Linked DNA regions of Homo sapiens. The protein of the gene in region 2 purifies or fractionates together with the protein of the main gene of each other region. This does not show direct contact. Each region holds a gene or a part of one and is shown on either strand. Other genes may lie near its edges.

Region 1 (3,900 bases), on a different chromosome or scaffold from region 2:
CCTGGCAGGTCTGTCACCGCCAACCCCGGCCCATCAGCACCGCAACTCCACGCCCCAGCGTCCTTGCCTGGGAAAGTGCAGGCAAGATTCGATTCTCTGGGGAGAGGCTTGAGGGTGGGAGCCCAGGGTGGGGAGTGGGAAACTTCATCTCCCAGGTCCTCCAGCTGTCACTGCCCGAGCTGGTGAAATAGGAGCCAGCCCAGGGGCGGGAGTGAGTGTCACTTTAGGGGTACTGCTTGGGGAGGTCCTCGAGAGGATCCTCTTGTAGCTAGAAAATGATCGCCTCTTCCTAAACCCCTACCACAAAACCACCTCTCACCCGTGCCGGGCTGCCCAAGGCCCGGACACCGCCCCTGCTGCCCCTTCCCTGCTCCGCCTTCCGCGGCTCCCCCGCCCCTCCCCCAGCAGACTCCCCTCCCCCATCTCCCCGGCAGCCTTCCCTCTGCCCCGCCCCTCCCGCTCCCTCTGCCTTCCGCCCTCTCTCCCCTGCGAATCGGGCCGGCGCCTCGGCTCCGCCCCCGGCCCCGCCCCTCAGGCTCCGCCCGCCCGAGCCCGGCAGGGCCAACCCCTCGAGGCCCCGTCCGGGTCGGCCCTCCGCTGCCACCGCCTCCCCTGACCCTACGCTCCGGGCCGCCTCGGCGGCAGCGCTCCCCTCCCCCTCTCAGACTCCAGGCTGCCTTTCCCTACCCTCCCGGTTCTCCCCCGCTCCATCTCCCTCCCCGGCTGCACACCCTCTCCCTTCCTTTCCCCCTCCTCTTTTCCTTCCTCGCCAACCCCCGCCCTCCTCCTCTCAGCTCTTTTCCCCAACCCAGTTCTCCTCTCCCCTCCCTCCTCTCCTCCCCCACCCCGGTTTCCCTTCCTTCTCCTTTCCTCGCCTCACCTCGGTTCCCTTCCCCTCCCCCTTTCCAGCCCTCCCCCACGTCTCCCCACCGCCCTCCCCCTCCCCCCTCCCTTCTGCAGCTCTCCTTCCCCTCCGAGGCCCCCGCCTCCCTTCCCCCTCTGTCTCCCCAGCAGGCTCCAGCTTCGCTTCCCTCCCCGTCCCCAGTCCCCAGAACCGCTCTTCCCCTCCCCCCTCCCAGGCTGCTTCCCAGCTCCCGGGTCCTCCGGCCCCCAAGCCTGGGGGTCTAGGGCTGACCCGCTCTCTCGGGACCTTCCCGCGGGCCCTGCCCTCCCCACTCCGTCTCCCCTCCGAACACCCCTCCGCGCCTCTCTTCTCCGCCGCGGCGCCCCCTCCCTATTTCTGCTCCCCTCGGACTTCTCACCCCTCCCAAGTTTTCCTCCCGACGGGACCCTCAGCTCCACCTCCCTGCCCCGCCGCCCTCCCAAGCAGCTCCGATCGCCGACTTCATTCCAGGTCCCGGCCCCCTCCCCAGCTCCGGGGCTCACCTGTCAGCGCCCTCCTCTCCCGCCCCTACCGAGTGGCCCGGTCCCCAGCGCCCGCTTCTTCCTCCCCTTCCCCCTCGGCCCCCTCCCACACTCCCTCTCTCCTCCCCTCGGGGCCCGTCGTCCCCCTTCCCACCTGCCTCCCGCCCGACCCCCTCCCAGCCCCCGCCCTTCCCTCCAGCCCCCCCGGTCTCCTCTACCCCCACAGCCCTCACCCTGCCCGCGCCGGCCTTGCCCTCCCTTCCCCCCAGCCCCCGACCTCCCCGGACCCGCGCCCCTCCCCCACGCCCGCCGTCCGCGCCCCTACCCCCGGGGCTGTCACCTGCGCGGAGCCGGCCGTGACCCAACCGCGGCGCTGAGGGAGACGCGGGCGGGGCCGCCTGCAGAGGAGCCTCCCCGGCCCTTACCTGGCTGGCCGGCCGCTCCGCCCGCGCCGCGGGGACCCAGGCGCCCGGGCCTCCTGCCCCGCCGGCTCTGCTCACAATGGCGCTCGCCGCCTGCAGCTCGGGTGCTGACGGCCTGAAAGACTGACAGACTGACAGCCCCGAAACTTCGCGGGGAGGAGAGGGATAGACGCGCGGGGAGTCGAAGCCGGGAAACGGCGCCTGCAAGGGAGGAGGGACCGAGGGAGCGGGCGGAGAGCCCCGGCGCACCGGGCTGGGGGAGGCAGGGGCAGGGGGTTTCAGGAGTGGGGTCCCAGGAGGGAGCACCGTGGGCTTAGGTGGGCAGGTGATGGTCCTAAGGCTCCGAGCCTGGAGTAGGTGTGGAAGTGGGAGCTCAGGACGGGGGAGGGGAGGGGAGGGGAGGGGAGGGTGATGGGAGAGGGGGTGGAGGAGGGCGAGGAGGCTGGGGAGGACAGGCACTCGGGCTGCGGGGAAGGGTGCCAAGGGAGGGTGCTCGCGGCCGCGGAGGGAGGAGCCGGGGAAAGGTGGAGCGCGAACGGGTGGGGGGGTGGCGGGGAGGAGTTGGGGGAACGAGGAGGGGCCGTGTCGGGGGGGAGCCAGCGAGTCGTGCGCTGCCGTCTCTAAGTCGCCGGTGCCAGCCGGGTGTGCAGCGCCGCGCTCCCGCGGGAGGACGGCCCGGGGGGTCGGTCTGGGAAACTCCGGCCCCGCCCCCATTCTCCACCCGGATTCCACCCCGATCCACCCAGACCCGCAGCCCCTCGCCTGGAGTCCCGAGGACCCGATTCGAAACCAGCCGCGGGAGCCGTGGGGGCAGGCGGGAGAGAGGGCTGGGCCCCTGTGCTTGCGAGAACGGGTCCTTCGAAGTAGAAACTGGGGAGAGGACTTTAAGCCAGGTCCCCTGGGAGAAGGCCGGGCCAGGTCGGGAGCTCCAGGGGGCAAGGCTGGGACGGGGCTGGGCGGAGATTCTGAGGGCGGGGTCCGGGGGAGGGTCTGGGAGGGGGCTGCAGAGAGGGGAGGGCTCTATGGGCGGGAGACGATTGCTGGGGGGCCTGCTGGCCCGGACACCACCTGGAGTTAGATGTGGAGGGCAGCCCTCAGCCCTCAGCCCTCAGCCCCAGCTCCTCAGGGGACTCCACTCGCCCTCCCTGCCCAGGTTACGAGGTTTCTCCTTGGCCTTGTTCCCGCTGCGCCCACTCCTGAAAGCTCCGGAGATGCTGAAGTCTGGACTGTTAGTTCCCGGTCTCCTCTCCATGAACTTTCTCCAAACCCCTGGGTTCCAGCTTCCTCCCTTCTGCCCCTTTACGGGAAAGGGTGACTGCAACTCGGGTCTCTTCCCAATCCCAGTGCTGCCTGATCAGCCCCGGTTTGAATCCAGAGCTGAGTGAGGCTGGGAAGGGGAGGGTGTGAATGGCCCTTGAGCTCCTGCTACCACAGCCCACCACAAGGATGAGTGCCTGGAAGAGCGCCCATCACTCGGGCTCAGCTGTGAAGGCTCCTCTGCCTCCAGGATGAAGGGAGCACCTGGAGTAGCATGTGTCACTGTGCGTGCTGGGGTGTGGCCGAGCACCTGTGCCGGTGTTGTGAGACTTACAGTGAGAGTGTGCATGTGTGTAAAACAGGAAAGGGGGGTGTCTGGGTGTGCGTGTGGCTCTTTCTGAGGACTCCAGAGCAGGAGTTGATCCCAGTCATCCGTGACCCCCTGAGAGACTCACTCTGGGCCCTTTTTTGGCCCTGGGACCAATGGTGAACCCAGGAGAAGGAGAGCCCGGCCCAGCTCTGGTTAACAGCAGCCCCCTTCCTCCCCTAGGTGGAATGACTCTACAGGATACTCGGAGGGATATCAGGTTTAGGAGACCGAGGGGTGTGGAGTCGGAGCCAGGCTGCATTCCAGCCCGGGTGTCCGGGTGTGCTCAGAGCTCTGCTGGGACCAGGGTGGACCCCGGATTCCCCTGTGGAGCCTGTCACTGCCCCTCCCAGCCGGATTCTCGGATTATTTCATCCGGCTTAGCTCTGCCCCAGGGCTGGGGGAGCTGGCTCCCCCGCCCACTCCTTCCAGAGGGTCCTCTCATTCCTCAGCATAGGCTCCCCAGTTCTAGACCCCAGAGACTCTAGG
Region 2 (3,900 bases):
CTGGGCCACCCGCCTGGGAGCAGCTCCTGGCAGCACCCCTGTGTCTGGCTGGGGTCAGAACTGGTGACTTTCCAGATTCAAGCCAGCCTCCCTAGGAGGTCAAAAGCACCAGGCATGTAGAGGGGCTTCTGACCCAGCTGGTGGCAGCCTGCTCCCAGGGCACCTGCTCCTGGGTCTAACTTTTGTGGCATGGGGCCGCCCAGCAAGGGGCAGGGTGTGTGGGGTGGGCGCTGCCAGCCACGTGGGACTGTGGTATCCTCATGGAGCTCAGTCACGGTGAGTTCGCAAACAGCACCCCCCGGCCTGTGTCTCCAGAGGCCAGGTCAGCACCAGAGGCCAAGATGGGGAATAAACTGGGCTTTAATGGGGAGGGAGGAGAGGATGAGTTCCCTCCAGGACGGGCTTGTTCTCGGCTGGTGGAGCAGAGGGGAACCAGGGGCCTGGCTGGGCACTGGCGGACTGTGTGCACGAAGGCCGACCAGCCTGGCACAGGGACCAGCTGGAGAGTCACTCGTGACTTTAGAACACGGCATTCAACCGCATGTCCTTGGAGCACCGTATTCTGGTCAACCGGCTGGTCAACGAGCTCCAGGCTTTCTGTAGTTTGTGGTCAACGAGCTCCAGGCTCTCTGCAGTTTCTGGTCAATGAGCTCCAGGCTTTCTGTAGTTTGTAGTATTGTCAGCAGAAAGTTACACTCATTATTTCGAAAGCATGATATACTGATGTATACTATCGGATAAAGCAAATGATTATGTAAGCTTTTTAGGAATCAAAAGTTTCAGGATTAAAGGAGAGAGATGCAAATGTAAAATTAGTGGAATTAAGTAAAAATTTTGCTATGTTAAATTTGACCTTTTCCCAACAGAAGGCATTTCCTTAGCTACCAGCAAGGCCTAGACACAAACGTCTGGACTGTAGTCTCTGACTGCCGTTCCCTTGGGTCCAGGCCTCTGGCGGGAGGGCGGGACCCCTTCCTCTGACTGTTCCCGGGGTCAGGCCATGGGGATGCACAAGGCCACACCGTGAGGCAGGAGTTCGGGTGGGGCAGGGCCGTGGACTGGGGCACCCACCAGTCCTGGAAAACAGGGCTGGGACGCTGCTCTGTGGCCTCAGACAAGCTTGGTGGGCGACATGCTCAAGTGAGCAGGGGCCCCAGGCCACGTCCAACTGTCCGCGAGGCATGTGAGCCTGAGATGGGGCTGGTCTCCTGTCAGAGGCACGTGAGCCTGAGATGGGGCTGGCCTCCTGCCCGGCACACTCGTTTCTGGCCACTCTTTCAGACGTGCATTCCGGGGGCAGAATGTTCTGGGTAAGTTCAGGCCAGACACTGCTGGGCGATGACTGTTACTTCCCCCAGGCTGTGGGGAGGAGGCAGCCTATTCTTCTGAAAATTGTCCAGAAACTTCTGGATTCTGCATGTGGCCCCTGTGCATCTGAATTGGCCCCGCTAAGTAAATGCAACGTGGGTGCACCCAACATTCACAACACACCTTCCTGAGGTTTCTGCATCGGCCACGCCTGTGGGCTCCGGAGCTGGGTCTGGGGAAAAGCTGGTGAGCCACAGACATGAAATGGGGGCCATGGGGCAGGTGGGGGTCTGGGTGGAGACGGTGATGGGAGAGAGGGTTCACCGGCTGAGGGGCTGGTGTGGAGATGACCTGGAAAGTCCCTGCGCTGGGGGGTGAGGCAGGGTCACGGCAGAGCAGCTCCGGGGCCATCCGTCCACGCACTTTCTGTGACACATGCTGATGGACACACAGTAGTGTGCAGGGTGGCAGGTGTCCCCACAGTGGGAGCTGCTCTCCTCCAAGAGCAGCACCAGGAAATGCACGGAACCCATGGGACAGGGCTGGTTCTGGGAGGCTTGTGAACCCTCAGCTCCTCCCAGGAGGGCCCCCTGGGTGGCTGCCCAGACCTCCTATGTGGGCCGGGAGACACTGGCTCTGGGTGAGGCACAGGCACGTGCAGACGGCGTGGGACAGGGGCTTGTTTCCTCCAGTGGAGTCTTTGTTTTTTGTGGGAAACCTCTGGGACCTGCCCTGGAGAGCCTGGCAACTGCAGGGCACTGTGGGGCGGGAGGTGCCTCAGCACGTGGGGCCAGGGGCTGGCTGCACCGCGCTGCACAGATGAGGTCGGCGGTGACCAGGCAGAGGTGACACCAGGGACGGTCTCCTTGAGCTGCAACAACTGGCCCGAGGCTGGGGACCCCACATGGTGATTTCATCCCAAACAGTTCTTGATTCTACGTGACCTGATTTGGGGGGTTCAGGTTTAAGGGAGGCCAGGTCTTGGACGGGCCCCCGTGGTTCTCGGTGTGAAGGGGACGTCTGCTGCTCCCCACCAGACCCGCAGTCCCAGTCTGCCGGGTCATGAGGGGTGGAAGTGCCTGATGAGCGCCTTCTTGTCAATCTTGCCCATCTGGTTCCGCGGGATCTCCTCCACCAGCACCAGCTCCGAGGGCACCGCGTACGGGGCCAGGACATTTCTGCAGAGACAAGCACAGCCTGAGGCGCACTGCCCTGACAGTGCCCAGCAGGAGGAACTCAGGCGCCCAGCAGTACGGACAGGTGCCCCTGGGACCCTGCAGCCTTGCCAGGCGCCTCGGCCATCCTGAGGCCAGGCAGGTGCACCGGGCCACCGCAGCTGTCTCTGCCCTAGCAGCCCAGGGGTGGTGACTGCAGGAGGTGCCCGGCATGGTGTTATCACTGGTACCACAGAAGCCATGGTGCGTGCAGGCCTTGGGCGAGGGCACACCTGAGGATAGGCCTGCACAGAGTGGCCTGCAGGGCAGAGGGGCCCCCACACCGGGCCAGGCCTTCCAAGTCCCCGCACTGGAGCTGGAAGGCCCCATTTCACTCTGTGGCCCGTTCCCCTTCCAGAGGAGGCGTGCGGAAGAGGCTGGGGAGTGGGTGGGCAGGTGGGGCAGGGGCAGTCTGCCCTGTATGGGGTATTTGAGATGGGAGTAAATGCCGCACAGTCCTGCAGACACAAGCCTATGTGGCAAGAGGCCTCACAGAGCCCTGCACGGCAGGGACGGCCCCTAAGGTTTGAAACCTCCACTCAGGGTCCCCCTTCCTCATGGGCGAGAACTCGGTGGGTGGTGCCAGGGCGGTGGGCGGTGCTGACACGGGTGGGTGGGGCCAGGGCACTGCCAATGCAGGCGGGCGGGGCCGAGGGCAGTGGGCAGGGACGAGGCGCTGGGATCTGAAACTGAGACTGCAGTGGTGCTCGGTGCTCCTCCATTCACCATTAAAGAAGGGAGGAAAGAAATGAAATTAACCCCCCAAAGGGAGGATGGTTGTGCCGCCCACCAGTGATGCCCTGAAGGCAGCGGCCGTGGCCCAGGCGCAGGAGGGGCTGGTCCAGGGCGTCCAGGCTGCACTGAGCCATGACAGAAACGAACCTTCATGGCGATTGTTCTGGTTACTGTTCCGCGGAAAAGTCCAGAAACCAAGTGTCGTGGTTTCTTGACGCTTTTTGTGGAGAAAGTGTCGCCTGCCGTCCAGACGCGGCCAGAGACCCAGCACAGTCCCCCTGCCCACCTGCCCCTGCCCGTAGGCCTCTCGCGACAGAGGTGGGAGTCGGCCCAGCCCAGTCTCTCGCTCTCCAGGGGCAACTGGCTTCGACCTCGGTGTCGCTGTCAACCTCGACCTCCACATTTCCAAATCGCATTTTTCTTTTTTTCTCTTTTCTTTCTAGGACAGGATCTCACTGTTGCCTGGGCCAGAGTGCAGTGGTGCAGTCATGGCTCACTGAAGCCTCGACTTCCTGGGCTCAAAGGATCCTCCCGAAGTGCTACAGGTATGCGTCACCTTACCTGGTTCCAATGTTCCTATCAAATTTATTTTGGCACGTATATATTTTATAGTTGTATAAAACTATGACAGGCATTTAAATGG

The links.
Region 1: the proteins of ACSF3 (region 2) and ZNF467 purify together in Homo sapiens (co-immunoprecipitation; one large-scale study listed by IntAct). This does not show direct contact.

The regions. Positions count from the first base shown.
Region 1 is NC_000007.14:149,771,318-149,775,217, forward strand, and holds the start of ZNF467 (zinc finger protein 467), read right to left. Parts: upstream 2,272-3,900; 5' UTR 1,791-2,271; intron 1,771-1,790; exon of another isoform or gene 1,706-1,770; intron 1,445-1,705; exon of another isoform or gene 1,387-1,444; intron 180-1,386; exon of another isoform or gene 149-179; coding exon of another isoform or gene 68-148; exon of another isoform or gene 2-67; intron 1-1. UniProt on the Homo sapiens protein: Transcription factor that promotes adipocyte differentiation and suppresses osteoblast differentiation in the bone marrow. Enhances the osteoclast-supporting ability of stromal cells.
Region 2 is NC_000016.10:89,152,676-89,156,575, reverse strand, and holds the end of ACSF3 (malonate--CoA ligase ACSF3, mitochondrial isoform 1 precursor), read right to left. Parts: intron 2,487-3,900; coding exon 2,369-2,486; 3' UTR 343-2,368; downstream 1-342. UniProt on the Homo sapiens protein: Catalyzes the initial reaction in intramitochondrial fatty acid synthesis, by activating malonate and methylmalonate, but not acetate, into their respective CoA thioester. May have some preference toward very-long-chain substrates.